Linked DNA regions of Homo sapiens: all the other regions are linked to region 1. Evidence: fine-mapped expression QTL. A gene starts in region 1. Each other region holds a variant in brackets. All regions are shown on one strand. Distances are between the middles of the regions.

Region 1 (8,243 bases):
TCAGTAGGGTGTTCAGGGGACTCTCTTGGTTCAAAAAAAAAAAAAAGCAAATATACTTTACTAAATGTACATATTCTCTCAATCCAGTACAAGTTTGCAATATCCAACTCAATGAAAAAAATCTCAAAAAAAATTATCAAAATAAATATAAACTTAGTTAACTCTAATTTTAAAAATAGTATTCCAAAAATGACTAGTCCCCAAAATGATGAAATTACAATAAGGTGTGGCTATTCTGGACAAAATAACAGAAATTGCTGGCCTAGTAATACAGTAATACAGGAAGCAGTGGAAGCAAACTTGAGTGAGAGGCAGGGGGTGGATGGCAGTGCCTTTGAAGTGAGATTCCAAAGTCAAAGTGACCTTTATAAATTGCAGAAGTGATCAGAAAAAGAAAGAAAGAAACCCCACACACAAAGAAATTCAAAATTACAAGTTAAAATGAAACATCTGGGGAAGGGAAAAATTTGGTTTTTCCCCAAATGTAAGGTAAGCATGACTCCTGCAAATACTGTTTTTAAAATGTCTAGGAGTACCACAGTTGTCCAAAATAAGAAAATGGCTAAAAATAATTGTTCGACTGAACAAGTATTTATTGTGTGCCTATTAGATACCAAGGCATCATGCCAGGTACAGGGGTAGGGTATGGGCATTAGAATAAACACATAAATGAAAATACACGATTCCTTCCTCATGTACGCATTAACAATAAGCACTTGAGGATGTTATAAGAGTTTTTGTGCACATAAGCGCATTTGTACACGAGATGGAAGCAATGAGGACAGTGAATGAGGCACTGGACACCAGAAGAAAGGAATTCTAGTCTCAACTCTAATTGGCTCTGTGACCATGAACAATGAACATCAGAAAATGGAGGACGGAAACAGTGGCTCTCCTACAAGGTCACCAAACCAATTAATAACAGACCTGGAGAAGAATTCTGGTCTTCTGGCTCCTAGTTCAGTGATCTGTCCAAAATACTACACATACGGTAGGCTGACAAAGAAAGAAAAGAAGACCTTTTGGTTTCAAGTCATTTGCAGAGAAAGGGGGAGAAACAAAAACAGGAAAATCAGGAAAGGGTGGAAGGAAAATCAATAGTTCAAATTTAGGCATTCGAACTGAGACATCAAGAAAGGAAGCATGTAACTATGGACTGTGAACACAATATAAAGAAAATGATGTAAAATTTCTTATATCCTTATTCAAATCACGCCTTGCAGTTTTTTACTCTAAAATCATTGCAGACGTATATAGATAAAGGGTCAAAAAACAACATGTATGAATGACATTTAAGGAAAAAGAGATAACAGAAGAAAAGGGAAAAGGAGAGGTGGAGAATTTATTATATCATCTAAATATATGAAGCCCTTCTAAAGGGTCAATGCAGACATATTGCACCCAGATAAATAGAAGAAATGACATTATATTCTATATCTCTTACGTTAGCAATTTTTAAATTCCTTGAGTCAGAAGCGTTAAACACTGGAATGACTAAGGTTACATTTGTTATGGAAATTTCTTAAATTTAGAAAGACCTCATACACACACCTGAAGGTAAAAAAAAATGTACTTAATCAGTGGGTTGCAACCAAGTTACTTGTCAGAATCACCTGTAAACCTTGAAAAAATATGGATTCTCAAACTTACCTTATCAGAATCCCTGGGTGCTGAGTCCAAGATCCACCCCAACAGATTTTGATGTAGCCAGGACACAGAGTTTTTTCTACCATAATGGGAGAGGTAGGGAGGAGGATCACTAGGAATGGCAACACAGAGTGGGAACTAGATCAATGCAAATTTTGTGGGCAAAATAGAATTTCTGTGGGTGTGATATTTTTAAGATGTATTGTAAGGCTGCTCTGAACCATCCAAGCATATCCCACTGAATTTAAACATTCTCTAAAGGTCCTGAAGTCAGCAACTACAATCCAGGTGAACCAAAAGTTGCTCCTCTATGTCATAGAAGCCTACAGGAGAGGCAGTAGGGTGGGAATGGAGCAGAGAGATCCCAAGAAGTTATGGGTAAATATTTTTTAAATCTAAACATTCAGAAAAATAAGAGAGACTAGGAATCACTCTCCTCCTCCTCTCCACCACACCAAAAAAAAAGGAATAATAAGAAAGTGAAAGGAAAAATAGTTTTAGGTTAAATTTCATCACCATCTGAAAGAAAATTACTCCGATTTTGTTTAAGCAAGAGAAGAATTCAGCTGAGAAATTATCTAGCAGGCAGCAAAATCAGGGAGTCACTTCCCATTGCAAAGCAAAAGAAAACAAGGAGCAAGAGGATGGTCCTGGATAGCTGTTTAGACAATCAGACATACTGCTAACATCTCCTTGCCTTAGAAACTCCGTGATGTTTAAATTAACAATTGGCCACAAGCCAAACACAGGAACACTCAAAAGTTTAGAAGGGTGTGCTGCAACTGGTACCTTAGCAAAACACAATAATAAATTAAGAGGATTCAAGAAGCCTTCACTGTAGACTCTAAGAAGATTTAAGATTTGTACCGAGAAACGGCTTCTAAATCTCTTCTACTGCATTAGTTTAGCATCTAAAGAACACCTGTCTAAAAATCAAAATATCTAAATCCTATCCTTTGAGTCAACTTGACTAACACTCAACTTGACTACCTAAAAGCTAGCTAATAATCGCAGCACCTCAGCAGAGCAGAGGTGGAGGGCATAGTTTTATGCACTGAGATCCTATAATAAAAGAAGCCCTATGTGTCAGAGTAATCCCATTTCTGATATCATATTATTTAATACTTAATTTTTCAAATCACTTTACAATTATATTTATTATTCCCTACAATTCTCTAAAGCAGGTTATTCCTTTAGTCCTGCTTCATAGGTGAGGAGACTACATATCATGAAGATTAAGTTATTTACCAAAACAAGTTAATGATAGACCAAGGATTATTACCCTCAGACTGTCTCATTGATCATACTCCTCTCTATCCTAAAGCTACACTTAAAGCTTTCACTCAAAGAAAAAGGAAAAGCAAAAACACCATCATATATGCTCTTTATTAAATGCTTCAGAAACAACGGCTCTGCTTCATCACTACAAAGCCTCCTGGTCCACTTCTGAAATTCTTAGTGACCTAGACGTGTACGAAATTTGAACTTTCCAAGAAGTATCTAGTTGGTGCTGAACAACCCAGTACTATTTTCGGGTGATAAATAACCTTGTTCTCTTTTTAAACATCTGCGATTGACATGTCGACTGACTGTTAACAATGAACAAAGACCATATTTTTCTGAAGCTCATCATCTTCCTAACCTTTTCTTTGAAAACAGATGTAGTTCATGTACTAGTTTTTTGGTGAAGGTAAAAATCTTTATTCAGATTAGGCTCAGAAAAAGAAGGGGCTGCTTTCCGTTCAACAAATATGCACAAGACAGCATCCCACTGGGAGCATCAATCTCAGAAGCAGTAAAACACAGCCTCGGCCCTGAAAGGACTTTCTGAACACCTTTGGAGTGTCATCCGTTTAATATACATTATTTTAATTAATCCTATTAGCTGGATAATTTCTTTCCCATTTTATTGGTGAGTTCATATAGCAGAGCTGGATTTGAATCCAGGATTACAGAGCAGGGCTCCAAAGCCCAAGTTATTTCCACTAAAGGGTCTGAAGAAATGTAGAATCTAAAAGTGTGGGTGGGATGGGGAAGATATGATTTGATTCCCTTTCCTTGGTCCAACCGTGTTAGAAACATCCAACCATAAAGAAGCTTTCTAAGGAAGCCCTTTGAATTAACGTATCCACTTTTTCTCACCCGCCCGTGCCCCACCCCCAGCCATGCCAAAGGAGCAGCAAATGCTGCTGCCAGGTTGGAGGAATTGGTGATCGTCACACCACATTCCTGGGTCTGGACACAGCCTGAAACAGCAGCAGAGCTCCGCGCCTCGGAAAGAATAACAGCAGTTGAGATTTTTAAATCATGTGCCTCAGCATGCAGCCACACCAGTTGCCCTACTTCTCCTGCCTCCACCTTTCAAAGACGCGAGCAGCACACACGGCTCCCCCGGACTTTCGGTGGGGTTGGAGTGTCAAAACTCAGGCGCGCCGCAAAACCCCGTCCCCATCCAAACCAAGCCCACACACCCGGCCCATGTGCCGCCCCCTGGCAAAGGCGAGGCTGGCTGCGACGGTGCAGGCCGTTTGGCTTGGCGGCCCTGCCCCCGCTCTCCACGCCAGAATCTGGCATTCCTTCGCTCAGCCCCTCCGAGGCCCGCCGTCGGCTCTCGCTCGACCCCAAGAAACGCGGAACCTGAAGGGCAAAACTGCCCACCTCCCTGCACCCTGGCACTACGAAAAAGGAGTTTCTGAGACTTGCTGCCGGCCTCCCTCCTGCCGAGGAGGCGTGTAAGGGGTCCCGGGCCGCGGGGAGCAGAGGCGGCGGGGAACCCCGGCGGTTGGCGGGGCACCACGGGAGGGGCCCCCGGCGATGTCCAAACTCTTGGGAACCCAGCGAGTGGCCTCGCTCCGCGCCGGCGGCCGAGCCTGGCCTTCCCACACAGAGAAGGACCGAGGGGGAGAAGGGTCGCCCCAGGTGGCAGCCCCGGGCGCCGCGGACAGCGCCCCTCAGCCCGATACTCACCATGCGCGGGGGCCGCGCAGCACAGCCAGAGCGCCAGCAGCGCCCACAGCAGAGCGGGGCGCAGGGCGGGCATCTTCTCGGTCGCCTCCTCCTCCGCCGCCGCCGCCGCCGCCTGGGCAGATCCACATGGGGAGGGGGTCCCGATAGAGGAGCCCCACTCTCTCCTCCCCTCCTCCTGCTTCAAAGGCTCAGGCCCTGGCGCTACGCTCCGAAGCCCAGGCGCAAATGCCTCGACTCCCCGCGCCCCGAGTCCGCCGCTCCTCGGCCGCCGCCTCAGCCGCCGCCCGAAGTTTGGCTGAAACTTTCTCGGGTGTGCAACGAAGCAGCCTCGTGTGTCCTTCCGCCTCAGCCGCCTCCTCCCACCGCAAGCCCCGCCCCACTGTCGCCGCGGCCTCGGCCCCGCCGCCTTGGGCACCCAGGGGTTTCCCGCAGGAAGAAGCGCCGGCCCGAGCTCCGCGCGGAGGGATCTACTACGAGTCACTGGCCCCGTCCGCATCCTTCTCCAGCGGCCCCGGGGGCCGCCGCGCCTTAACTCGATCAGGGCTGCAGCGGCTCGCTGGCTTGACCAGTGCAGAAGGGGCGTGGGGGTGAGGGGGGTGGGGTAGGACTCTGAACTTCAAGCACTGGAGTTTGCCGGGATCGTGAACTTGCAGGGAGAGGCGGTCCTCATCCAGTGAGGTCTGTATCGCCACCTACACCCACACATCCACACACTGCTTTGCTAGCTAGAGGAATGCTCTGGAGTAGGACCAGTGCTGTCAAAGAAGGAAAGTGGGCCAAGGCGCCAAAGTCCATTAAAAAGGAATAGAGCCATCACGGAGTGGTGCTGCCCCATTCATTCATTCATTTGTTCATCCGTGTAGCGAATATTTCTTAAGTGCCTTACTTTGCGTAGCTGTGTGCTTGGCAGTGGGATGATACCAAAGATGCACAAGCAACTTTGAGTACCAAGACTTTGCCGCTGTGGGCTGGGGGATTCAGGGAAGGCTTTCCCAGAGGAGCTGGGATGAAAGCAGGATCTTGAAAGGTCAGTAAAATTTGTATAAGACAAGGAGACCAGCTAAGCTAAGGATATTCGTTGTAACACTGTAATAGCAAAACCTTGAAAACAACATAAATGCCCACCCTTAGAGGAATGGATGAATAATGTATGGTATATTTATAAAATGAAATGCAACACAGTAATTGAAAAGACTATAGCTATTTATGTCAATAGGGATAAATCTTAAAAACTAAATGATAGTGAAAAAACTAATCACAGAGGGAGACAAAGTATACCATTTATGTATATTTTTTTCAAGACAATACTACACATTATCTGTGGATGCATATATATAGATATAGATATTAAGAGACTATAACCAGAATAGTAGTTACTTCCAGGGCAGGAGAGTAGGGGGTGTGATCAAACCTGGGTACAAGTGGGCTTCTAAGAAAAGAGCTAAAAGTAAGAACAGCAACAATAGTTGTATGGACATATCATTCCAGGAAAGAGCCCTCGTGAAAGCAAAGGTACAGTCAAAAGAGTAAGTAAATGAGTTCTGTCTCTGTTAGCAGTGAGAGGAGTCAAGGACGGAAAGGGGGTTGGGACCAAATTATGCAGCCTTGAATGGCAAGCTGAAAGGGTGGGGAGGCAGCTACCTCTTAGGTCACATAAAACTATTGAAAGTTTTTGAACAGAGTTGAGATTGATGGAAAGGAAGATTGCTCTGATAATTCTGTAGAAAATTGATTGTTGGGGGAGCAAGAGGTGAACTGGAGCCCCAGGACCAGTCAAGAGTTGGTGAACAGTCCAGGCACAAATTTAAGAAGACCTGAACTAATAAGGTAGATTTCAGAAGGAATGAATCCGAGACAATGTTAAAGAAACAGAAAAAAAAAATGGAGGTGTGACTAATTGGATGTGGGAGTTTACAATCCTGTTGGGATGGGAAATCCTACCCATAGAACCTCTCCCTGACTCCTATAGGATAAAATTCAAACTTCTAAACATGGTACATACAAGGCCTTTTCGTCATTGGGCCCCATCTCCTGTCCTCCCTGCCCCTGTTGTGAACTTCACACAATAACAGTATTGACTAACTTGAGATTCCCCCAAACATATCTTGCTGTTTCTGTCCCTGTATCTTTTGTTCCTTTGGCTTGGAATGACTCCTGTAGTCCCCTTCCCTCCTCCTCTTAATGAACTTCTAATCATAATTCATCCTTCAGTCCAAAGAAGGCTTTGCCGACACCGCAATAAATTCCTCCCCCTAACAGACAGTCCCTCCACTGTCTTCCACTGCCGCTTCTTTATCTTAACACCGATACTTATTTTTCACACAGGACTCTTTGTATTTCTGTGTTCTCAACTAAGTTTTGAGGTCCTCATGGGCAAAGACCACAGCCTATTAATCCCCAGTGTCTATCACATAATAGATGTTGAACTAGAATGTGAAACAACACTAAGCAAGTACAAGTCAGTATGGGCATAGACCTATGAAGTTCCAAAACTGCATGTTAACAAGCACTTTAGGTAAGCAAGTACCATTAGTGAAAGTAGTCACATTGAAATACTGGAAACCCTTTTCAAAAATAATGTAGTCAAAATATTTTTGGAATTTGTCTTGTGCAAGTATGTTCAGAGAAAGATAACATTATTTTTCAGTTGTTTACCCACAGTGTTACCAGTTCGATCTTCCTCTTTACTCACTAAAGATAATTCATAGTGACTTGGCTGCATACAAATTTTAAAAATCACCTGCAAAGATAAGTTTTGTCACTATTAAAATATATTCAGAAGAATATAAGATAGTTATCCCCAAAGAGCAACTCTAGAAGCGACTGTAGCTATGACAACATTATTAAAATAAATGTGCAGGCCAGGCGTGGCGGCTTATGTCATAATCCCAGCACTTTGGGAAGCTGAGGTGGGCAGATCACCTGAGGTCAGGAGTTTGAGACCAGCCTGGCCAACATGTTGAAAACCCGTCTCTACTAAAAATACCAAAAATTAGCCGGGCATGGTGGCGAGCACCTGTAATCCCAGCTACTCAGGAGACTGAGGCAGTAGAATCACTTGAACCCAGGAGGCAGAGATTGCAGTGAGCCAAGATCGTGCCACTGTACTCCAGCCTGGACAACAAGAGTGAAACTCCGTCTCAAAAAAAAAAAAAAAAAAAAAATAGGTATGCAGTTTCTCAAAGTAACCGTTTTAAAGAAAGCAGCTATTATGTTCACATATAACTTTTGTTGAATATGTTACAATATGAAAACTTACTGCATACATTCTGGTAAGGACAAGAGAAGTAAAGAGTAAATATGAATGGAAGTAAGGGAAAAATATGACTGAAGACATTTTTTAAAGATAAGTTTTAATGATAGAAAAATATGAATAAGGGCTACCAATTGTTTTAGTTTTAATCAAAACTAAAAATATACATCTATGTCTTTACTGATTTAAACTCACATAAAACTGCCTTCCAAAATAAATGCAGAATTGGGCACTTATTTGTTCTCATGTCTGTCCTCTCAGAGCCGATAAGCTGTAAAAAAAACTCTCAAAATAAAACTCTGTTTTATTTTCTGTTTTGCCTCGGTTTCTATCACATAAGTGCTCAATAATATATGTTTTACATAAATGCTGAATG
Region 2 (8,243 bases), 45 kb before region 1:
TACACAACGAGAACCAGTATTTCAAAATCTTAAAGTGACAGGCAGTTAAACGACTAAGGCACTACCATCGTCTAGGCAAGAGAATCTTAACCACCATCAAATGTTTTCCACACAGAATAGGCAGACCTAGTTTATTCTGGAAAATTGAGGGTTTGGATATGTACTATATAATCAGAGGAAACAAGCAGTAAAGGACCTGAGCTAATTTGGGGTAACCAAAGACTTGGCTAACAGATGCTTCCTTACTCTGGATCCCTCATATGAATCAGATCTGGCCAGCGATATGCTGGACAGAAGATATCTGAGGTTGAGATACCTGATTTCTCAACTAAGGGAATGAACTATGCAGTACATGAAAACCAACCCTCTTCTTAGTGCCTCTGTTTTCCTATCACTTTCCCTATCCCAATCCATTCTTGCTCTTGCCTTAGAGATTCTTAGATTCTGATTTTCCTCGCAAAACATGGCCACAAGCCTACCGCCTCTCTGTCTGGTAGAAGTACAAGAATCAAGAGTCAAGGCCAAAAAGGTCTGAGGGAAGGAGCATAATTGCTCCCAGCTGCCCTCTCTTCCTGTCCCCAGGTCCTCTCCTTCACCCTCACTCTAGGCATTCTACCTCCAAACGTTCAAGTTAACATGTGCTAAAGGAAGGATTTTCTAAATCACTTACCTGTCACTGTGAAACTAGATTAATCCACATACTGGTTTAGTAAAACCTCACACAAACCAGCATATACACAGAAGACAGCAATCAAGATGAAGAAAACGTTTGAAACTGTGTCATTAAGAAAATGTGATGAAGAAATTGGTAATGATTATTCCAGGAAATAACAGTCCCTTCTAGTCTCCTCAGCTCCCTTCCTCTCACCCTTCTCCTACCTATCCGTCTTCTAAGGCACCACTAATATTCAAAGATTTAGGATCTAAGCAGTGCACCAAAAGTCCTCTGATTTTACTCTTTTGTCCCACAGTACTTGTTCCTTTGTCTGAGTGTCCATAGTTATTATCTGTGCCCCTACACTGGGATATTACAAACTGTTTTATTTTACACATCTCTGTATGCTTCATCTCCCCAGCAAGACTTCAGAAGACTGCCACCATGTCTTATGCAGGAGAAACTGCATTCACTGTCAGACAGTCTCTGGGTACGTATACTTGTGAATAAGGAAGTCAGGTAACACAGGCCTCTTGGGCTTTTCTGGGTATTCACAATACCCAGTACAGTGATCAGTTATAGTAGCCTGCTCAATAAATACTAGTGTGATAAAAATTAAACTTTTGTTTGAAAAGTGAGGATTCTATAGTGCTTCAGAGTCCATCTAACTTTCAGTGTTCAGCACACAGGATTATAGACAGTGACTGCAGGAAAATGACCTGAATCTATACAGATTTAATAGTCTAAATGCTACCATTCTACATAAATCCTAATCAGATTATTTTCTTATTAACACCTACCTTTCTCCTCATATTTACGTGAAGGCAAAAAACTGGATAGAATGCTCTAGTTGAATGTGTTCGCTGAATAATATCACCCATCACTTAAATAATGCCTTTCTTAGTCTTTATTTTCACTTTTCTTTCATAAAACTCTTTTCATAAAGATCAAGTAGAAGACTGTTTAGGAGAAGAGCATTTCGAGCAGAAATTAACTGCATTACTTTTTCATAGGAGAAGGCTGATGGAGTCTAAGAATTGGCAATACATTTTTGGACACAGAGGACTAAGTGCTAGTGAAGGTCACTGACAGTGAATAAATAGGATCTAGAAAATGTGCGGAAATCCAATAGAAAGTTTAATTTACCTTACGTTGGGTTGTAAGGTAAAACTCAACTAAAAGAAATATGAAAACAAAATGCATAACACAGTCGCATGTGCACACATGTGTGCATACACACATATGACAGGAGGACGGAGAGACACTAAACTTCATTCCTAACTACTGTATGTTGAGAGGAGGCCTAATGAAAACCTCTATCACACCCACATATTTATGCTAGCTTAACAAATTTTAAAGTGCTTGGAAATTTTTAGATGATTACTTTTTCTCATATTCTGATATCCCCCATTCCTTTGCTATCATTCATAAGGGCAGATGTAGACAAAATTAAAGAATTTAATTAAGCCTCTCCATATCCTGAAAGAGAAATATTTCTCATTTTGCTTAGTCACAAAAAAAGGGAGAAAAAAAGAATTCCTGTGTGAAATTAATGGTGCTAATGAGACATGCCTGAATAAGAAACTTCACATAAGATTACGATTGACCTGGAGACTGTGTTGAAAGAAACCTAGCTAAATTCACATCTATTAATGCCAGACTGCAGGCCAAAATTTGTTGATTTAATTTCTTGGCAGTTACCCAAGACAGGTAAAAGGATATAGGCAGAGCCTAAGAACCAGATTCTCCTACTTCTTCACTGAACACTGAAATATATAAAGGTCCCAACTGAAAGAATAAAAATTAGTTGAAAATAGTATGGAAATTATGTTGCTATGTGTTAAGAAGCTACTAACTGGCCAGGCACAGTGGTTCAGGCCTGTAATTCCAGCCCTTTGGGAGGCAGAAGTGGGAGGATCACTTGAGCCCAGGAATTCGAGACCAGCCTGAGCAACATGTGAGACCGTGTCTCTATAAAAAGTTTTAAAAATGGGAGACTGAGGCAGGAGGATGGATGGCTTGAGCCTAGGAGGTGGAGGCTGCAGTGATCCATGATTGCTCTACTGCACTCAAGCCTGGGCCACAGATGGAGATGCTAGTAACCAAGACTTCCTTTACAAAAGACCCCTTAGGGAAACATCATATTTGATAAAGGATTTTAATAGGACATAAGTATTAATAAGAATCACTTAGGAATGGTACTGTTAAAGGGTCCAGATCTCAAGTCCTAATACAAGGAAAAGCCTCACAGGACATACTCATATGCATCTGTAACTCACTATGCAAATGTAAGGTGCCATATTCAACAACTTGTGACTTTTGTGCTGGCAACAACATTTATCAAAAATCACTGAATTTAACCTGTCTCAATTTCACAACTGCATAAATCTGTCTGGACTTGCTCCTGTTCCATTAGTAAAAAGAAAGGAGAAGTTTCAAATTAGTTCTCTCTACTGAAGCACACTTTAATAGACAATATCCTCTATCCCCACCTTCACTGCCCTCTTCTTCTATTTCATCCACAGTTATTACATTGAGCTTTCATGTTAAAGGCCATTTCTCAGAAATGCAGTATTCACCAAACCTGGCCCATGTACACTCATGTAACTATATGCAGATTTAGTGTTCTAGAATGATATGAGGTACTCAGGCCTACCTAATGCTACTGTCTTTAAATTTAGAAATTACATAAAGCAGTGTTTTAATCATATTCCTGATCTGAAAAGTCCCCTTTTTGTATACTTTCAAATGTTCCACACTTCCTTTTCAGAAGGTTCCATTTGAACTACAAACTTAAAACAGGTAATTCTGTCCCATTTTATTGACAGGCAAACTGAGACTCAAGGTGACAGTACATTTTCCACGAGTATATCTCAGGTTAGCTACAGAGTGATGGGATCTTGAGTGAATTATTTAACTTCTCTTAGCTTCCATATAGTCTCTCTCTCACATGGGGACTAAAGTAAATACATGTTAAACTACTTGAGAACAGACCCTAATACGCAATAATGTTAGCTAGCATTATAGACTTTAACTTGCCAAAGATCCAATTGTTAATAGGAATCAGGACTCAAACTTAAGTCTATCTGGCATAAAAAAACCTATGTCCTCAGCTGGGTGTGGTGGCTCACGCCTGTAATCCCAGCACTTTGGGAGGCCGAGGCGGGCAGATCATGAGGTCAGGAGATAGAGACCATCCTGGCTAACACAGTGAAACCCCGTCTCTACTAAAAATACAAAAAATTAGCCGGGCGTGGTGGCGGGCGCTTGTAGTCCCGGCTACTTGAGAGGCTGAGGCAGGAGAATGGCAAGAACC[C/T]GGGAGGCGGAGCTTACAGTGAGCCAAGAAAGCGCCACTGCACTCCAGCCTGGGCCACAGAGCGAGACTCTGTCTCAAAAAAAAACAACAACAAAAAACTATGTCCTCTTCATGTCACCAGTCAAGGATCTTCCAGGACCCTTACTCCACTCACCAGTGCAGGCTGAACCATACTAGATCATAAGGCAAAAGAAAAAATCAGTAGTACTTATCTCCTTATTTAAAATTTTGATAATTTTCAACTTATTTTGCATTAATTTTGATTTTTTGAACAACTACATACAAACATTATTTTGATTAGTGAGTTTTTTGGCACTCTCTTAAATTTCACAAGAGAGGCCTGTGCCTTACTTGCCTCACCATGGTCCCAGCCCTGCCATTCACTGGCGGCCCCTGTACAGAAGGCCACATTATAGTCAGTTTTTTTCATACTTGGCTTTACTCTGAACCTCTCTAAGAAGCCCAAGTTAATGAACTGGTAATTATTTTATGACTTCCCAAAGAAGTGTGAAATAATATGATAACAATATTGATTAACTGCAACTACTACCACAGACTTGAGTTATCTGTTATATGTGGTACTCATAAATAGCATGCAATAAATAACTCTTGAATTAATAAAACCTGAACACATTACATTTTAAGAAAAGATTACTCTATGAGAGGTATTTAATGAGCCAAGAAAACAGCATTCTTTGTTTTATGTTAAAAAGATAAATGAACTATGGAAAACTGGCCAAGCTTCTGCTATCATTTTCCAGAAAAACTATATACACAATGTTCAGCTAAATAGGCACCGTACTTGAAGGAACTAGGCTGGCAGAACCAGTTTCAGCTGAGAAGAAAGAGAAAGTAATTTAACAGTTGATATTTTTCCCTGTCTATTTCTTTGATCTGACAATGCCCCTGTGCCTCCCTGAATGCACTCACAAGAAGGTGAAGGAAAAGGGGAAATGCTGAGTCAGCCATGACTTCTGAAAACGCCCTTTTGGGGGAGAAGCACCACAACAGAACCATTGCGAATGCATCCTCCATAAAAAGCTAAGTTCTAAGGGATTATGAGTGTCTCTACTCTCTACTTACTATACAGACATTTACCAAGAAGACAAAGAAGGCAATGGCTCTAGTTTTTCTTGGATGGATTCAGGAAATCTGGACCACCAACATGACTGCCTAATCCTGGCAAGGAAAATTGTTAGCTGTTAATGTTTAATGTTTATTACAGCTAGCAGACAAGTTTTAGACAAAATGTGACACAAAGTTATATTTTATAACACTTTATATTTATAATAATTTACCTTAAAGTGTAGTTTTTAGATCAGCACTTTAGCAAAAAGTGGACATTCTCAAATGCAAGCACCCATCTACAGGAATGTATACAACTCACAGTGACTTTCTGCTGTTTTACAAACACTACGTTAGATATTTACCAAGTGGTATGTATGAAATTCTGAAAGGCCCCTTTATATTTCCAATTTTCATCATTAAAAATAATTGCAGAGTAACTTATATCAGACTAGCCCTCTTGCTCTGGACAAAATATCAAAGGCACTGGAGAATCACTGAAAGCAGGCATAAACTAGAAGGGATATAAGCCTCAGAAAAAGCAAAGCAAACTATATGAAACCCACATTTACAGTTTTGTTTTTTTTTTTATCGTGAAGGTACACCCCAGTTCATGCAGCAGAAGAGGAAGAGTGTGCAAGCAGAAAATGGAAGTCCTGTGATACTGAGGAGTCAGAGGTATCTGGAGCTGTCACAGCAGCTAGAATATGAGGAGAAAAATTCCTGGAAAAGACAGAACCACAGAGTGGGTAGCTTCAAAGTATGCATACAACTCTGCTCAAATCCTTAAATAATTCCTGACTATGCATGAGCAAGATAAGATTCAGAAACCCAAGAGAAAGTAAGAGCTGGACGGCTGAAAAGACTGAGCAGAAGGCTCCTGGGGCTGGGAGGACAAGTTCTGCCTTAGAGGGGCTTAATGAACACCTCAGGGCTTGGTAGGCCCCTCACACTTACCACTGAACCCCTAGAAGGGTCACATCTTGGGAATAAGAACCCTATCCCATGACTAAGATTTGTGTCATCGGACTAAGGGCAGAACAGAAGTAGGCCCACCCTAACGTGTCCTAAAACCTAGCATCCATAGGATCAAGATGATCTGCCAATCTTGACAAAATTCAACATTCTTTAGTGGGAGATAAACTTTAAAATCTATCACCCACAATGTCCAGTAAGTAATGTAAAACTACCATACATGTGTAAAGTAAAGGGAAGTCATACCCATGGTCCAAAGAAGGAGCAGTTGATAGAAACAGAAACACATCCATAGACAACCCAGATGTTAAGAACCAGCAGACAAAGATTTTAAATAACTACAATAAATGTCCTTAAAATACATATTTTGTCAATTATACAAATCATAACCTAACCTACCCCCAGAATCCTAGTGAACTTGAGTTGTCCATGATCTTTAATCAAATTGGGATTTAGAATGGTTTATATTTGAAAGTCTGAAGCAAACAACTTGAAAGTGATTAATGACATCAAATTTAATTACATATTTACACCTCCCAGTAGGACAAGGGAAAGAATAAAATATCTTATCTCCCTGTAGTGAGACAGCTTTATTAAGATTTGACAGTAGTTATTTAACAGCAATAATTGAGTTTTATGCAAGATTATACACGTTCTCCTAATCTGGCATCAAAATCTAATCACAGACTGATAGGGTACTTAGGCTCCTAACAGTGAGAAAAAACAGTGGAGCTGAGTACAAAACTAATCTTCAAAAGTAGTTATCTTCATCTGTCAATGTGATCTTATCAAGGATTTTTATAATTTCTATAAACAATCATTATATTTTAGCTGAATCAGTAGCATTATGCTGTCTAAACAGATAGTCAGATTCCTTCTATTTTAAAACACTTTCTACCAGTTCCCATCCCACCACTCACCACTCACCCCTACGCTGGCCCTGTAAAAGGAATTTGGCTTCAACTTTCTTTTCTTAATCCACTAAGCAATCGCATGAATAAAAAGATAATCACATGCCCTGCATGCCTGATAGAATTTTTATAAATCTTCTAAGTGTTTTAATATTTATTTTCTATTTTGTGAAAATAATATTTACTGAACAAGCTAGATCATCTTCTTTCTCCACAGAAAAAAAGGTAAGGTTGGTGAAAATACACTGAAAGCTCTGCTAGGTACACATTATTTTTGCATAAAATTTTGCTTAAAATTCTGTGGAGGCTGGCAAAGCACTGTAGAATGATTGACATGGCTGCCTTGATATTGTTCTTGCTTTTTCTTTGTCCACTTATGTTGACCCTGCCACTCCTAAATATGCTAATATTACTTTTGCTGAGGTAGGGAATCACTCTCTTTATACAAGTTTTGTTGTTCATCTTGGTCTCCCAAAAGGATGGCCTCACCAAATTTTTTCTTACTCTCTCTCAAGGAGTTTGTTTCCCTCAAAACAGGAAAGACATCTGAGGGACATACCCAGAACTGTATCCATAAGCATTCCATCCTATCAACAATTAACAAGTAGCCAGGGACAGAATTTAGGCAGCTCCATTTTCTTTTTTTTTTTTTTTTTTGGAGACACAGTCTCGCTCTGTCGCTCAGGCTGGAGTGCAGTGGTGCAATCTTGGCTCACTGCAAGCTCCGCCTCCTGGGTTCAGGCCATTCTCCTGCCTCAGCCTCCCGAGTAACTGGGATTACAGGTGCGTGCCACCACGCCCAGCTAATTTTTTTGCATTTTTAGTAGAGATGGGATTTCACCGTGTTAGCCAGGATGGTCTCCAACCTTGGTTGGAGAGTATGAGACTAGCAGCCCAACAGTCCAACAAAGAACTATTGGACTTCTTCCCAACAGTGACCCTTAGGTGTCCTCTCCTGGTAAGTGCTCAGAGATTAGTCTCCCCTAGAAACCTTCTTTCCCCATGTCAGACCAAAAATATATAGGCGAACACTTAGAACATATTTGAAATTCTCCATATATAAGTCACCAAGTTGAATGATCTTCAAATAGAACCAATTTGCCTCTCTGTATGGTATTACCACCCTGAATGCTATGTGAAGTAAATAAATTTTTTTTAAATTTTACTTTTAAGTTTTGGGATACATGTGCAGAATGTGCAGGTTTGTTTCATAGGTATACATGTGCCATGGTGGTTTGCTGCACCTATCAACCCGTCATCCAGGTTTTAAGCCCCACGTGCATTAGGTATTCATCCTAATGCTCTCCCTCCCCTTTCCCCC
Region 3 (8,243 bases), 61 kb after region 1:
CTTGTCCTTTTTATATTCTTTTGTCCTTGTAGGTTTCTCCTTAAAAAAAACTCACCAAAATTCTTACTTGCTTACATATGCATAAAGAAACTCTGGAAACACGCATAAGAAAGCATAACAGTCCTTATTTCTGGACAGGGAGAAAGTGGAAACTGAGCTGATGGGAGACATATATGAGGGAAACGTTTCAGGCTGTGCCTCTTTGTATTTTTCTGGTTTTAAAACCATGTGAATGTATCACTTAATCAAAACATTAAATTTTGGTTGAGTTCTAGGAGGGAGTGGAGCATGTGTTTAATCTGCTGTCTTTAACCAGAAGTCTCAAGTATTGTTTTTCTAAATTAGCAGCTTCAATGTTGAAACCATGAGAAGCTACCCAGCCAAAAGCCATTCCAAACAAATCCAGAGCCATAAGCAAAAATATAGACAAATTTGGCTTTGTGAAAATTAAAGATTTATGCAAAGCAAAAACCAAAAATCAAATCAAATTTAAAAAGATCAGAAAACCAAAAACAAATTGGGAAAAAATTTTGCAACAAGTATGACAAAAGGCAAATTTACTTTAAAATATGGAATTTTGACCAGGTGTAGTGGCTCACACTTGTCATCCTAGCACTTTAAAAGGCTGAGGCAGGGCTGGGTGCTGTGGGGGGCCGAGGCAGGCAGATCACTTGAGGTCAGGAGTTCAAGACCAGTCTGGCCAACATGGTGAAACCCCATCTCTACGAAAAATACAAAACAATTAGCCGGGAGTGGTAGCACATGCCTGTAATCCCAGCTACTTGGGAGACCGAGGCAGGAGAATCACTCGAACCTGGGAGGTGAAGGTTGAAGTGAGCTGAGATTGCGCCACTGCACTCCAGCCCAGGCAACAGAGTGAGGCTTTGTCTCAAAAAAAAAAAAAAAAGGCCAAGTCAGGAGGGTGCCAGACTGCAACTCCAGTCTGGGTGACAAAGCAAGAACCTATTTCAAAAAAAAAAAAAAAAAAAAGATGAAGTTTTTACAAAGCAATTAAACACAGATAAAAATCCAATAGAAAACAACAGGCAAAGGACATGAATATACTACACAGGTGAATACTTACAAATGGCTTTTAAATACATGAAAAATGTTCAACCTCACTCATAAATTAAAGAATGAAAATCAGAACAATGAGAAAATCAGTTTTCACCTATTAGAACAGCAAAATTATAAAATCTGATAATATACACTGGTGACGTAAAGATTTGGTGGGGGGGAGTCTAAAATATTTTTAGTAGGATTAAAAATTGTTACTAAATTTGCAGTGCATTTTGGTGCTATCTATCAAAATGTTAAAGTTACATTTACCTTTTGACGCTGCAACTTCCCTATCAGACATGTATCTGCTTGCACTGGGCATTAAGACATATTTACTTGCTCACTTCAGCTGCACATATGCTAAAATTGGAAGGATACAGAGAAGATTGTCATGGCCCCTGCACAAGGATGACATGCATGAAGCATTCCATATTTTTTTAAAAATACATATTTACAACGATATTCACTGCAGCATTATTTGTAGTCACAAAAACTGTAAGCAACCCAACTGCTTACAGGAGGAAATTGGCTACATAAATTACAGTATATTCATTCAGAGGGATATTAAGCAGCCAATAAAAAGAATGAGGCAGGCCAGGCACAGTCACTCACACTTGTAATCCCAGCACTTTGAGAGACCAAGATGGGAAGATCAGTTGAGGCCAGGAGTTCGAGACCAGCCCGGGCAACATGGCAAGGCCTGACTCTACAAAAAATAAAAAATTAGCGAGGAGTGGTGGCACGTACCTGTTGTCCCAACTACTTGGGAGGCTGAAGCAGGAGGATCCCCTGAGCTCAGGAGTTAGAGGTTGCAGTGAGCTATAATCACACCACAGCACTCTAGCGTGGGAGACAGAGCAAGACCTGTCTCTAAAAATAAAAATAAGAAAAAGAATGAGGCAGCTTTATATTTATGGAATTATCTCTAACATGGAGTCTTAAGGTTACAAGCAAATTATGGAACAGTGTATATGGAGTGATCCTATTTGAGTGATTTTTTAAGTAACTTTTCTTAAATACATAGATGTGCTTGTGTACACACAAGATATCTCTGGAGGAATACATAAGAAACAAATCATTATTACTACCTCCAGAGAAGAAACTGGGAAAATAAGGGATCAACAAAGGGAAGGGGAGTTTTTTTCCCTTAAAAACATATGTGTGTGTATATATATATAATCTCCAAGTGCATGATTTTTAAAAAAATAATAGGTACATTAGTAAATGTTTTCGGTCGCAAGCAACAGAAACAATTTATAGTTAATCTAAGCAGTAAATGAATTTATTAAAAAATATTAGGTAGTTCACAAGCTCTCCAGGAGGACTAGAAACCCAGGTTTAGAGGCTACATAGCCAGAAGCAACACCTAAAATTGTACTGCAGAACAATATCATGAAGTCATCAATGCCCCCACTGCATGGAAACCACTGCTCGGTGAATGCCCCAAGCCTGGATGCTGGTCCCTGCTGCTAGAACCACCAGAACCACCACCACTGTAGCATCTAAAAAATGAGTGTTGTTATTACAACTAATGCCACTCCCTGCTGCAGAACAGATTCAGCAGTCTTTGCTATTTGAGGTCACTAGCTCCTGAGTCAAAAAGCAATGCAGATCCTTATGCCTATGCATACCTGTAAGGGAAGCTGGAAAAGAAGTATCTGACATTTTCAGCTTCTAAAGTAAAAGGTTGTCCTCTGTATCCCATCAAGGCCTATAAAGTGATGAATGCTTCAAATATAGAGCATTTAGATAACAGAGGTGGAGAGAGAGAGAGAGAGGAAAATAAGGAAGGAAGAAGGAGTTTCACATCAGTTTTCACTTTGCTTTGGGGGAAAGTATCCTGGATGCCATATGACATACTCACTTTCCTGTGTCTTTTGCATGTACTGTTGTTAAGAATCACAGGACTTCAGAGTAGAAAGTTCCCGATAGAGGATTTAGTTCAAAAGCATTGTTTTCTAGTTGAGAAAAACAAACTCAAGTAAAGTTTGGGAAAACTCAAGTTGCCCAAAATTACTCATAAGAGTTTCTGATTATGTGATTAGGTTCTCCCAGTCCAGGGCCCAATCCTCCATAGAATGTTCGGGTATTATTAGTACTTCAGCCAAGGCTCTAATGCAGTATCAAGATGCAGATTTGCTTCTGGTAGGGCTTCTTGAAGAAACTGGTGCTACTTATTATAAATATTATTAAACATTTGTATAGGACTTTAATGTTTATTTTTTAAAATTTTTATTTGTAAATAGTAAAATCATTTATTTTTAAAAAACAACAAAAATATAGGAGGATTTAAAGTAAATGGTAAAATTCATACCTTCATCTTGCTTTCCTACTCCCTAGGAATAATCAGTGTTGAAAGTATGCTGAGTATCTTTCAGTTCTTTTTCTATGTGTATGCACATATATTTGTAGGTATTTATAGACATACGCATACCACATATATAACCTTTCATATCTTGCTTTCCCACTCTACATGCATCATGGACATAACTGATACTTGAAGTGGATTCATGCCAGTAAGTTATTGCTAGGTTGGGAAGCACCGCATGGAGACATGGTGCCTGAGGAGAGGATGTCACAAACCATGAAAGGCTTGGTGGTAAGGTGATATTTTTGGTCCAGTGAGCTTCATGGTGTCACTTGAAGTATAAATTGCCTCAGGAAGAAAACATGGGCTGCTTCAAAACATGAAAGTAACCTCCAAAATCATCTAGCTCAACCTCATTTGTAGGTGAAGAACTATTTTTCCTGGGAGTGGGGGTGATTATGGACCTTGCCCAAGATCACCCAACCAGGACAGTGACAGAGTTGGGATTTCTTTCTTTCTCCAAGACCCTGGCTCATTGCATTGTGTTGCATTGCTTTCTGCAAGTTTCAGAGGAGAGAGAGGGCAGTGGTTAGTTTGAAAACACACATATGCTCAGATTACATTTGATTTCTCAGACTGTAGTGCTGGGGCTCCCTGCCTGACTGTGTCCATGAGTTCTTCCATGAAGTTTTACATTTAGCTTTTCTTTTGCCCACTATATGCCTTATTGACTACCATTAACCATCTCCTTGGGGACTATGAATCTTACTTTTCAGTCTTTTTATGGCAATTTGCACTCTTTACTAACACAGCTTTATTATTTGTTCAGGTCTTGGGAGAATATTGA[G/A]TAAGACATTATATCAGATGGATGACAAAAGGAGGGGAAAAGCAAGAAAGACCACCAAGTTTACATAGATACCAAATTTATTTAATCAGGGAGGAGTCATTTAGTGCCAATGAGGGAGGGGTAGAATACACATTAGAAAAAGACACATCTTCTGCCTGTAGGAGCTTACTTTCTAGAACAGTTACCTCTAGTCTCTTTTCTTCATACCACTCCATCAAAAAAAAAAGAAAGAAAGAAAAGAAAACCAGCATACATGCCTAATAATTGCATGTTTGCTATAAATTCCATACACTCTACTGTGACATTTTAATATTAGTAAAGCCTAATTTTCTTAATATTTTAGATTAAAAAATAAATAGAAGCAAGTATTCACATATGTTTTTCTCATACCTCTATGTACCATTTTGAGCACTTCACTTTGGAGTCCAGTTTCAACAGGAGAATCAGATGCACACCCAAAATACTAGAAAGCTTGGGAGTGTGAAGAGGGCTCTAATGTCAGGGTAAGCAAAATATTCTTAGGGCATCAAGGAAGCATTGCCAGAGGAAAGGAAAGCTGAGGATATTCAAGGACTTCTGACCTACTCCGTGGGCACAGCGTCTCTGGGCTTGGACAAGGGATTAGTGCCAGGCTTGATTTCCTTGGCTGGAATCTGTACATGAAGGCTGCACATGAAGAGCCTACCTCACCCCAGAAGCATCCATTTCCTGGCACCTCAAGCATATATGGGCTTAATAAATAACATGTCATTCCATGATGATAGGGACAGACATATTTGGCCCATAGCTTAGAGCCATCCCCAATTGTCTACACTCAATGGTGGGGCAGCAAGTACTGTGGATATGGAGCTGGGAGGCTGAGCTAAATCCTAGCTATCTTACTAACCAATTGTATGACTCTAGCCCTTAAACTCTCTGAGCTTTAATTTTCTCATCTGTAAAATGGGAATGATAAATGCCTTCCAGACCTATTTACAATTTCTAACATTTGTTGAGTTTTTCAATGTGCATTACATGTATCATCTCATGAAATCCTCATGACAAAATAATGAGGTGGAGCTATTATTGTTCCCCTTTTGCAAATGTGGAAACTAAGTTTTAGAGTAGGTAATCTGCCTACAAGTTTACACAGCTAGAATGTGCAGAGATGGGATTCTGAGGCTTGCTCAACTCTGAAGCAAATGTCCTACCCACTCTACTTGGCTGCTGACCATGAACACACTTCATGAACTCTGAAGTACGAACAAGGTACACAGAGTGTAAGATTTAGTCCTTGTCCTTAAGTCTAAATTCAAAATATGTTTATCTATAAAGCGTGTTTTTCTGTTTTTGTTTTTTTGAGATTGAGTCTCGCTCTGTCAGCCAGGCTGGAGTGCAGTGGCATGATCTCAGCTCACTGCAACATCCGCCTGCCGGGTTCAAGCAATTCTCTGCCTCAGCCTCCTGAGTAGCTGGGATTACAGGCGCCCGCCACCACACCCAGCTAATTTTTTTTTTGTTTTTATTTTTAGTAGAGATGGGGTTTCACCATATTGGCAAGGCTGGTCTTGAACTCCTGACATCATCATCCACTTACCTCAACCTCCCAAAGTGCTGGGATTACAGGTGTGAGCCACCATGCCCAGCCTATCTATAAAGTGTAAAAGTCCGACAAAGTAGGATTTGGTTAGAATGAAAAGGTGGAGAAAGAACTTCAATGTTAGTTTCCTTATCTTTAGTCCCTTACAACGGTATATGATTACTGGAAAGAGCACTTGGTTAGCAAGAAGAAAACCAGTTCTGTCCCATACTTGCTCTCAACTTTAGGCACTTCATTTAAGCTGTTTACTCATCTATTAGGGGTCCTAATGAATGAGCTCTAGAGGGTCTTTTTGCCTGACAATCCTCAAACTCCATTCTCAAAACTTCCTGCAATCGGGAGTCTCCCTCCCCTCCATGGAGAGGGCGGGACAGAGGCATGTAGACAGGGAGGCGATCCTCAGGTCAGCTAGGGCTTACTCAAACAAGGTCCTGTGGGGGCAACAGGGAGAGTGGATGGGGACTCAAGCCAGAGCCCTGGTGGGATGGGCCGGTAATTATAAGGAAACACTGCAGAGAAAGTTTCTGTTGTGGTTGTTCCCTTTGTTTACTTTAGGCAGTTCTGTCATTTTTTAACTGACCCTTCCCAGATGAGATAGTCAGTTTTCAGCTGGGTAAAGTCAGGGCCTTGCAACTGATGGGGTATTTGAATCCTCTGTGGCTCAGTTGCTGGAGGGAGGCCAGGGCAGCTGAAACTCCCCCGCCCTTTCAGGGAAGTGAAGCTGGGGCTACAAACTTGCTGACAGTGGCTGGTGGCCTGTAAACCCAAACATCCTCCTCTCCTCCGTCTCGGTGTAGCAATGTGAAAAAAACAAAGCCACGAGCTTTCCAGAGCAGGGGAAGGCTCTAGCCAGATTCCCTTCCAGCTACTCCCTCCTGCACTTCGGCCCACAGCCACATGGTACAAGGTTATAGTTACAGTTGAAAACTGCTGACGTCTACTTTTTGGTTGTTGTACAAATAATAATTAATAAAACACACACAAAAAAACACACTTTTCTTCATGGCTAAATATTCACATAGTTGATTCAAACCTAAATATGCATACTTGCTTTTCTTTTCCTGTTTTCTTAAGTTTGAATAATAGTCATGTAGCTGTTTAAGAATCAGACAGAAGGAAAACTCATCCGCTTAGTACTTTTCTTAAATTGTCCAGTTTCTTTTGGCCTCTGAATACCAGAGTCTTTTATGTGTAAGATTAGAAACATCTGGCCAGCATATCTGAGTAAGGCTGAGCTAAAGCGGGATGAAACTAGGTAGAATGGCCTGCCTTTCTGAATTATAGAATTTTAAGCATTGATGGGACTCAAACTTACTAAATTCTACCTCTTCATTTTGCAGATGAAAAGACAGTCCCAAGAGGTTAGGATTTGCTTAATGTCACACAGCCTGCATCAGAGGTGAACCCAGAACCCAGGTCTCCATACTCCTAGTCTGGCACTGTTTTTATATATATATCCATGCTTAGAGAGGACTTGTGTATTAAAATTTTTTTATAAAAGTGCATCATCCCTGTCTTTGAAATTATTTTGCAATTCTTACCCAATTATTTTGCAATTCTTACCCACTGTGTATATATTCTTTAGGAGAAGAGAGAGAGTTAATGTTCATAGAACACCTATTATGTGCCAGGTTTTTCCTACATCTTCTCATTTAATTTTCACCATGCTATGAAGGAGGTATTATTCTACCTGTTCCACAGATGATAAAACTGAGAGGTTAGGTACACTTGCCGAAGTTCACATAACTAGGAAGTAGTGGACTCAGGATTCAAATCCAGATCTCTCTCATCTGCAGCTCCCAGACTGTGCTACACCACATTGCCACAGCCACTGTGCACATCACAGCTTACAGTAACATACTTTCCACTTTTCAAATTATGACCCAATTTTCATAATCACTACTTTTGTGGATGTATTCACTCATTCAGTAAATTATTTATTAAGCAGCTACTCTGTGCCAGGAATAGTCAAGACACTGAGGATATAGTAGTGAGCAAAATACATAAATCCTTGCTCTCATAGAGCATGGGTTACAGGGGGAGGAATAGACAACAGCCCAGAAAAATAAGTCAGGTAAAATGATAAGCGTTGGAAGAATAAAGCAAGGAAGAACAGGATATGCTAGAGGCTGAGGGATGGGAGGAAGATAGCAAGTTTAAATACGATTGTCAGGAAAAGAAAGTATCATTGGTTACATTTGAACAAAGATCTGAAGGCAGTGAAGGAACAAACTAATGCATATCTGGGAGAAGAGACTCTGAGGCAGAGGGAAGAGTCAAAAGTCACTGGGGCAGGAGGAGGCCTGTTATATTCAAGAAACAGTTAGGAGGCCTATATGTTCAGAATGGAGTTACAGGAAGAAAAATATCAGATGAAGTCACAGATGGAGGCCAGATGAGGTAGGGCCCAGGACTAATCAAAGACATTGGCTTTTATACTAAATGAGAAG
Region 4 (8,243 bases), 21 kb before region 1:
CTCAGAACTACCACTCATACACATGCCCTAATGACTAACACCCATTGACTAGCATCACCCCTACCTACACAACAAAAGAACCCCACTTTTGAAAACTTGCCAACTCTAGGATTCAACATACTACACTATGCATTATTTCTCCAGGAAAAAAAAAAAACTACCCTATGACTGAAATTGTTTAGAATTTTTTCTTTGTAAAATTGACACTGACAAGATACCATCTCTTCTCAATAATAGAGTAGCAACACAGGAGCAAAAGGAAATTATGGAGTTAGAGATGGAACCAGATCATAAGTATGATATACCCTATCTTGACAAGATTTTACTCTTAAAAATGAAGGCCCTATTAAAAGTAGGTAACCCATCATCATTTTATCCAAGTACCCATAATTCAATTGATTAGAAATAAATCCCTCCAAGAACACATCTGCAGTTAAGTTAGTGAAAACTGAACTACTGAACAGAGAAGCATGGCCTGCTGCTCAGAGAAGACGGGTCATAACTAATGTGGTAAACCAAAAATGCCATAAGAGATAAAGTATTTTCTTCATCTGGTCTGCTTCTCTCCAACTAAAGAAATCAACTCAGAGGGGGAAAAAAGACAAAAACTCACCTTCCCAAACCAACAAATAAACTATCCAGACACATACCCTTCATGATGTTGAATCCCAATTTAGGAAACCTCAGACAGCTCAGAGCACTGTCTTATCCACAAGGCTGAGAATACAAGACTTTTGTCCTCCAAAATTAAAAGTATAAATTTTATCACTAAGTTTGGTATACTGTCCCACAAAATGCCACCTTATTCCATGTCCATACCACTAAAGAACTATAGAAAATAATGACATATTAAAAAAGATCACTCCTCTGTTTTCCTTATGGCATTTTTATTATCTGACACATATAGCAAATGTGGATCTTGAAATGGGAGATAAATTAAAATAAAGTTTTAAACTATAATAAGTCTATAATAAATAATATACTCTATAAATAAATTATCAAAATTCAGGGTATTTGGTGATAGAAATCTAAGGAGGAAATGAATTTTTGAAATGTCTCAGGCCAAAAGAAAACTAAAAGGCTATAATCAAGAAAGAAAGGAGATGGGCAACTTCTTTTTAGAGCCCCACTTCCGAAAGAACAGCTGTCTTTGCTCAGCTGTAGGAAAACCACAGGACTTGGAATAACTCACTTCATGTACTGTCCTTCTTATGTTAAAATGACACTGTTGACTCACCCTCAGTAGGATATGTGCTTGGTTAAACTTGTTTTTCCAGTAACAGTAATGAACTGAGTTACTCTACTATTGAAATGATTTGCACCGCCACAACTGAAAAAAATATTTGGAAACACCTACATATCTAGTATGCATGTCCTTGAGTAGTAGGTCTGGTTTGACTATGCAGCCAGAGCTTTATCCTTCTTCAGAGTCTCTCCACAAATGATGATCAGTGTAACAAAAGAATCTTTCACTGCATTTGCTCAGTGAATCATTGTCTTAGCTAATAGCTAATCCCCACAGTCCTGGGCTTCCAAAGTCTGAAATGAAATAAACTGTCTAATTTATTTTTCTTACTTTTAGTTACATGTACTGCTCAAATTTGGGTGATACTGCAGAAGGCCCACACCAAATCCACAACCCTTGCATGCAGCAGTAGCATTCAACAAGGTCCTGTAGGACACTCTGGTAGATTCCCCCTTCTACTGCTCTGTCATTTCTAGCTTACTTGCTAGTTAAGGTGGAAAGACTTTAAAAAAAAAAAAAAAAAAGGAGCCTTTACCAAGCCCTAACTCTAGCTTATGAACCAAACTAATCATCATATGGGTGGGAAGGCTTAATAACTTCAAACAAGGATTTTTACTTATACCAACCCAGACAATGAAAGGGAGGGTTGTTAGTTCTCCTTAGATAAAAAACAGTATTCCCTCTTAAGGAGAGATACAACCTAATTCACATATATCTTCTATCTTTATCTTTTCTACCTCAAGTATACAGTTTTTTAATTGAAAATTTTAACTCAAAAATTATTTTGCAAAGGGATATTTGAAACGTGGGGAGTAAAAGATAAGCTACAAACAAAAGAACAAATATCTTAGACATTAAACTCTTCAATTTACATTCTGGACCAGTGGTCTGCAAAATTAGGTGTGTGTACCCCAGAAGCAGGGGAGGTGTAAGACCATCCACTGGGGCACTGGAAGAAATTTTAAAACATCTCCATATTTATGGGCTAAAAAACATATAAGCTTTACTTAGAGTTAACATATGCATACATGGTTTAATAGCCAGACATTTATATAATGTATAAATATGTATTTACTTGAGGAAGCGTTCATGCTTTAAAAATGTTTTTCTTGGGGTATACATTTTTTAAGGGTTTGAAGGGTCCTGCTTTACCCCCAGATTTCACAAAGTAGGATACATATGCGCTCAAGAGTATACAGTATGCCAGAAAAATGCAAAGAAACTGGATAAACCTGGTATATCTTCCTGGCATCTCTATTTCACTCACTCTAGGGTAAGTGACATTCATTCTTCCCTATAATCAGGTGCTTTGGAAGACACCTCTGGCTAACATGTCATTAGGATAAAAGAGGCCACAAAATGATGGCCTGGATTCTGGGTTCTATGCCTGGCTCTCTATCTTCTAGCCATCTGACCAAGGGCCAATCACTTCGCACTTCCAGGCCTTTCCAGCTCCTTCCTACTCAAATTTTGCGATTCACAAGTTAAGTTTTTCATCCCATCTTTAGTTGCTTCATGGCCCTGCACATGTCATTCTTCTAATTAGAATGTAACAGCCACTCCTCTCCACCAATCTCAGCCTCCTTTCCGCTCTCCAATGAGGCCTTGACTTTGCATTCCCTCAGCTTCCCATGATCTGTTTATATGATGTGAAAGGGCACTTTCTGGAAGGCTCTGTAAGTGTTCTCAGGTTATTACCAGTGTCCCCCAGTACTTCTGGACAGACTGTAGAGCTCCTTTGGCTAAAGTGCTAGAGGCAGCATTCTGCATGGGGGACCAACATGTATTATCACCTCACCATGCTGAAAATCTACAGCCTGGCCCCTGATCCAAATCAGCAATATACTAATATTAAGGAAAAAGTAACAGAAACCAAAATCACCCACCTAATGAAGATATATGATCTAGCAAAAGAAAATGAGGCTGAGAACATCCACAGGTAAGCCAGGCTATGAGGAACATCGCTCTGAACTCAGCAGGAACAAAATGAGGAACCGGGGAGAGTACAGAGAAGTGTTAACTCACACTGGTAGGATGCCCCTTCTCACTCAAAACAGCTGAGTTCATATCCCAGGCATGGCCGCTGTATCAAAATAATTAGTAATTAAACAAGTTAATATATGCAACATGCTTACAGCTTGGCACTGTTAAGATTATTACCCTCTTTCCTTCAAGCACAGCAGAACACGAGAAATGTCACATCTTTATCTGCAGACTTTGGGGGATCCAAGGCAGAATTTTCACCTACTCAGAGCAGGCTGAGATTCAACTTCCCTTTTCAGGTTTCATCGACATCCCTGAAGGTTCCATAGCATATCTGCCATCATGTGGAAAGATAAAATTCAATTCCCAGGCATTCCCAGGTGCACTTCTAAGGAAGTGGTATGGTGTGAAGAATAAAGCAATGGACCAAGGGCTAAAAAGTCAGACATCTGGCCTGGCACAGTGGCTAACACCTGTAATCCCAGCACTCTGGGAGGCTGAGGCAGGTGGATCATTTGAGGTCAGCAGTTCAAAACCAGCCTGGCCAACATGGTGAAACCACGTCTCTACTAAAAATACAAAAAAATTAGCCGGGTGGTAGTGGCACACCCCAGTAATCCCGGCTACTCGGGAGGCTAAGGCAGGAGAATCGCTTGAGCCTGGGAGGTGGAGGTTGTGGTAAGCCAACATCGCACCACTGCCCTCCAGTCTGGGTGACAGAGTGAGGCCCTGTCTCAAAAAAAAAAAAAAAGTCAGTCATCTTGTCTTTGTACTGCCACTGACTATTTTTGTGCTCTTGAAAAATTACTTTACCTTGGTTTTTTTTTTTTTTTTTGAGATGCAGTCTCTCTCTATTGCCCAGGTTGGAGTGCAATGGCGTGATCTCAGCTCATGGCAGCCTCCGCCTCCCAGGTTCAAGCGATTCTCCTGCCTCAGCCTCCTGAGTAGCTGGGATTACAGGTGCACGCCACCATGTCCAGCTAATTTTTGCATTTTTTTCCGTAGAGACGGGGTTTTGCCACATTGGCCAGGCTGGTCTTGAACTCCTGATCTCGTGATCCGCCTGCCTTGGCCTCCCAAAGTTCTGGGATTAACAGGCATGAGCCACCATGCCCAGCTGAAAAATTACTTACCTTTCTAAGGCCTACAGTTTGTAATCTGTTTTTAAAAAGTGATTAGATGACATATAGTCCCATAGCCAAGAAAATAGTAGCTTACCAACATGTTTTACTGTGACCTACAGTGAGAAATATATCTTG[T/G]ACCAGACCTCAATATTCACATATATACGTGCATAGCAAAAACAAAAATTTCAAGAAACAATGCTTGTCCATACTATGTGATACTCTCTATTCTACCCTTTTTTCCCCCAAAGTGCTGTTGGAGACCTACCAAATTGGTTTCATGACCCATTCGTGGTCATGATCTGCAGTGTAAAAAACAATGGACTAAAGCATGCAGTAAAGAATGTGGCTTGGCAATTAGACAGGCCCAATACCACTTTTTTTTTTTTTTTTTTTTGGAGACAGGATCTTGCTCTGTCACCCAGACAGATGTGCAGTGGCATAATCATGGCTCACTGCAGCCTCAACCTCTGGGGCTCAAGCAATCCTCCTGCCTCAGCCTCCCAAGTAGCTGGGACCACAGGTGTGCACCCCCACTCCTGGCTAATTTTTTTATTTTCGTAAAGATGGGGTCTTGCTATGTTTCCCAGGTTAGTCTCAAACTCCTGGTGTCAAGCGATCCTCCTGCCTCAGACTCCCAAAGCACTGCGATTACAGGTGTGAGCCACCAAGCCCAGCCCCAGCACCACTTTTAACTAGCTGCATAATCTTGGGTAAACTACTAACCTTTCCAAAGTACATCTTTTAAATTAAGACTAATACACCAGGGTTTTTTCTAAGGATTAGATGAGATAATGTATGTAAAGCACTTAGCCACACTGTGTCTGACATAAAATACACACTCAATAAAAAGTTATAGTGATGACTAATAACATCAATATTATTATTATTAAATTCAAGAATTCCAAAAGAAAGTAAATTAAGTGGAAGAAAGCTAGAAAGAGAAATAGGCTCACCTATAAGCATCAATAAACAGTAGGACTGTTGTCAGGTTAACCCAGGACTATGCTCACTGAAATTCTACAAACAAAGGGGTTTTGCTTACTTTCTTCACAATATCCCCTCGCAACTTAAGCAGTGCCCAGCACACAATAGGTACATATATTTGTTGAATGAATGAAAACATCTGGAGGCTCACCTCTATGCAGTGGAGGTGCTGTGAAGAGATCCCAGCAACGCCTGCACAGCACCCCTGCCCAAAAATCCAAACACCTTGAGATTGTTGTAAGCCAGTGACTCTCAAAGTGTACTTTCCCAAACAGCAGCAGTATTACCTGGACGCTTTTTAGAAATGCAATCTACCAGGTCCCGCTCCAGACCTACCAGATCAGAAACTCTGGGGGTGAGCCCAGCAATCTGTATTCTAACAAGTCCTCCAAAACTTGATGTGCACTCAAGTTTGAAAACCAGCATTACAAACTGATGATTTAGGGACCAATAGCAATTCCAGGGAGCTACATGTACAATCAAACGGACTCCTGCAAAGTTTATTGATTCTAGGAATTAGTTACTTACCTAGTTCAACCCAGACTTTTCAGAGTTAGCTGCAACTTCCAAGGAAGTTACCAAGAATTGCTTCTCCTCTCTGCTTCTCCTTAGTGCACCAATAAAGCCTAATTGCTGCAAACTCTCTGAAACAACCACTCTAATATTCAGCACAAAGCCTGATTGCTAAAAAAATGCAAAACCTATTTGTTAAATGATCTTTTATCTAAGCACATTCCCTGGGCTCACACTATCCATACCAGAACTTCTGGAATGCAGGCTTACGGTGTTTTTTCAAACTCTACATTAGTTCTCAAAAAATGAACAAGGTCCCACAGCCAATCTGCATGCAGCAACTTTGCACCAAAGTTATAACAGTACTGATCTACCAATACCTTGCATTTCACTATTTGCCAAAACAACAAGACCTTATTTAGCATCAATTTTGTGTACATACACTTCAGAAAGAAGATAACCAGATATTAAAGATAACCAGATATTAAAACTCCAAAGTTAAGGTTTGTAATGTGTTGATAAATCAAACAACACATATTTGTATCACTAGATTGAGCCCAGTAATTTCTATAGAACCTTAATTTCCCAAAAGGTACCTTAATCAGACTCTAGTCAAACACAACAAGATTTAGAAAAAACACACTGTTTTTTATCAAAAGGCAGGAAAATATAACTGTCTTCTTTCTACTCTGGTAAAGGATTTCTAAATATACCTTCCAAGGGCAAAAGGGTGCCTTTGAAAAATAAGAAGATTCCTTATTTCTGTCAATAGAATAATGATCCAGTTATATACCAAAGAGCAGATAGAAGACCTGGCTTTGGAGTCATGTGACTCTGCATTAGATCTCATGGGGTCTCTGTCTCAGTCTCTACAAATAAAAACATGGCCTTGTCTCTATAAAAGATACAATGTACATAGAAGTGTTTTGCAAACTATTATATATTATCTTCTCAACATGCAAATTTATCCCTGTGAACTGATTCTTTCCCTCCCACTCACAGTGGCCAAAATAATTTATATTAGAATGTGTCCATAGGTGGCTTAATAGCAGTTGTGACAAAAGTGTAAACTAGAAAAGATACTGAATATTTACACACACATAAAGCAGCATGAAGCCACAGAAGGCTTCAAATGACAAAGAAATGAATTAGAAAAATCACCCACAGTACACTGGCCCTTCCTGGTTTTGGCAAGGATTTCAGCCAGAAAGACATGGTATTTAAGAAGAAAAATTAATAAAAAGAAAACATAAAATGAATTCTTTCAGAACTTCACAAAAGGTTATGTTTAAAAAGAAGTTTGGGAACAAGGGGATGCAGAGGGCTATGTTTTTTTCAGGTCTGACTTATCCTTTGCTATGGGTACACTGTCTTTTCATGTGGCCTCAAAGAAATAGTTGAGCCATTATTGTTGTTGATAATGACGAGCAGATGCTGATGGGATGATTGCACATCAACAGTTCTCAGACTCAGGTCTTGTGTAATTGGGTGTGTCAATCTATGTCACTCCACAGATGGTTATTAAACTAGTTACAACTTCCCTAAATCTTTTCACTAGATCTATGCAGCATTCTGGACAGCTATTCCTTGCCAACTGAGATTAGGCACTATTATAAAAAAAGTTTTGAAAAAACAATTCCAAGGTCTATTCCTCCTCCCAACACACACACACACACACACACACACACACACACACACACACACACGCACACACACACAGAGTTAAATCAGAGATACTTAATTCAGATATTCAAATTTTTTAATTTGAAATTTAAAATATTACCAAAGCCATAAATATTCCTTTAATGCAGTGAATGTAAGAAATCTATTAATTTCAACCTGTCTTGAATAAAAATTATAATACATATATAATTTTCTATGAAAAAATTGTATGTATTTTGGATAATCTATGTACCTCAGGAGTAGCCCTTCTATCAAAGCTCTTCTCAGGATGGTGGAGAATGGTGAATCTCAGCTCTCACAACATAAAAGTGCCAAATTCTTCTTAGTGAAAGAGGTGTATAGCCTTGATGTGCTAGATAAAAGTGGCCTTCAGAGAAGAAGCTCTCCACTGACCACGGGGCATGGTCAAATGTCCAGTTGGATTGCTGTGAGAGTCAAAATGATCCACTTGGCATTTTGTTGATATTGAGGTGTCAAACCTTTAACTAGTTGGCCACTCCTTCCAGTAAGCTTCTGTACACTGGACAACTGAAAGAAAGTTTGTTAAGAAGGCTCCCTTAAACAAAAGGTACAACTTATAAAATACACTGTTGTGGAAAGACAAGTATAGCTTCATTATCATATAGATGTAAACAAGGCAGAGACTAGGCTAAAATAAAGTGTAAAATGTGAGTTTGTTAATTTTTCTTTCCCCGTGAACATTTGGCAGA

Which allele goes with the higher level. Alleles are on the strand shown, and positions count from the first base shown. SD is a standard deviation of normalised expression in the study named. Not every link is listed here.
For the expression in activated naive CD4 T cells of the gene that starts at base 4,943 in region 1, allele C in region 2 goes with a higher level than allele T (large effect, 1.7 SD a copy in Schmiedel 2018).
As copies of G replace T in region 4, the expression in monocytes after LPS of the gene that starts at base 4,943 in region 1 goes down (large effect, 1.3 SD a copy in Quach 2016).

What was found. PIP is the estimated chance that this variant, and not a neighbour inherited with it, causes the effect.
Region 2: its variant is the best candidate, but not a certain one, in a credible set for the expression of NOTCH2 in activated naive CD4 T cells (Schmiedel 2018, PIP 0.85).
Region 3: its variant is the best candidate, but not a certain one, in a credible set for the expression of NOTCH2 in T cells (TOPMed, PIP 0.75).
Region 4: its variant is the best candidate, but not a certain one, in a credible set for the expression of NOTCH2 in monocytes after LPS (Quach 2016, PIP 0.75).

The regions. Positions count from the first base shown.
Region 1 is chr1:120,064,720-120,072,962 of GRCh38, forward strand. NOTCH2 (notch receptor 2) reads right to left here and starts at 4,943. Exons shown (of 34, transcript NM_024408.4): 1 at 4,615-4,943. The coding sequence starts at 4,687. It overlaps LOC101929178 (a long non-coding RNA gene), which reads left to right and starts at 5,109. Exons shown (of 2, transcript XR_254374.4): 1 at 5,109-5,292.
Region 2 is chr1:120,019,390-120,027,632 of GRCh38, forward strand. All of the region lies in intron 2 of NOTCH2 (notch receptor 2), which reads right to left. Among named protein-coding and RNA genes, the nearest start is that of NOTCH2, 46 kb to the right of the region's middle. The variant C/T (reference allele first, on the strand shown) is at 3,972.
Region 3 is chr1:120,125,579-120,133,821 of GRCh38, forward strand. It overlaps the pseudogene RNU6-465P. Among named protein-coding and RNA genes, the nearest start is that of SEC22B, 47 kb to the right of the region's middle. The variant G/A (reference allele first, on the strand shown) is at 4,215.
Region 4 is chr1:120,043,719-120,051,961 of GRCh38, forward strand. The region is part of intron 1 of NOTCH2 (notch receptor 2); the gene reads right to left. Among named protein-coding and RNA genes, the nearest start is that of NOTCH2, 22 kb to the right of the region's middle. The variant T/G (reference allele first, on the strand shown) is at 4,489.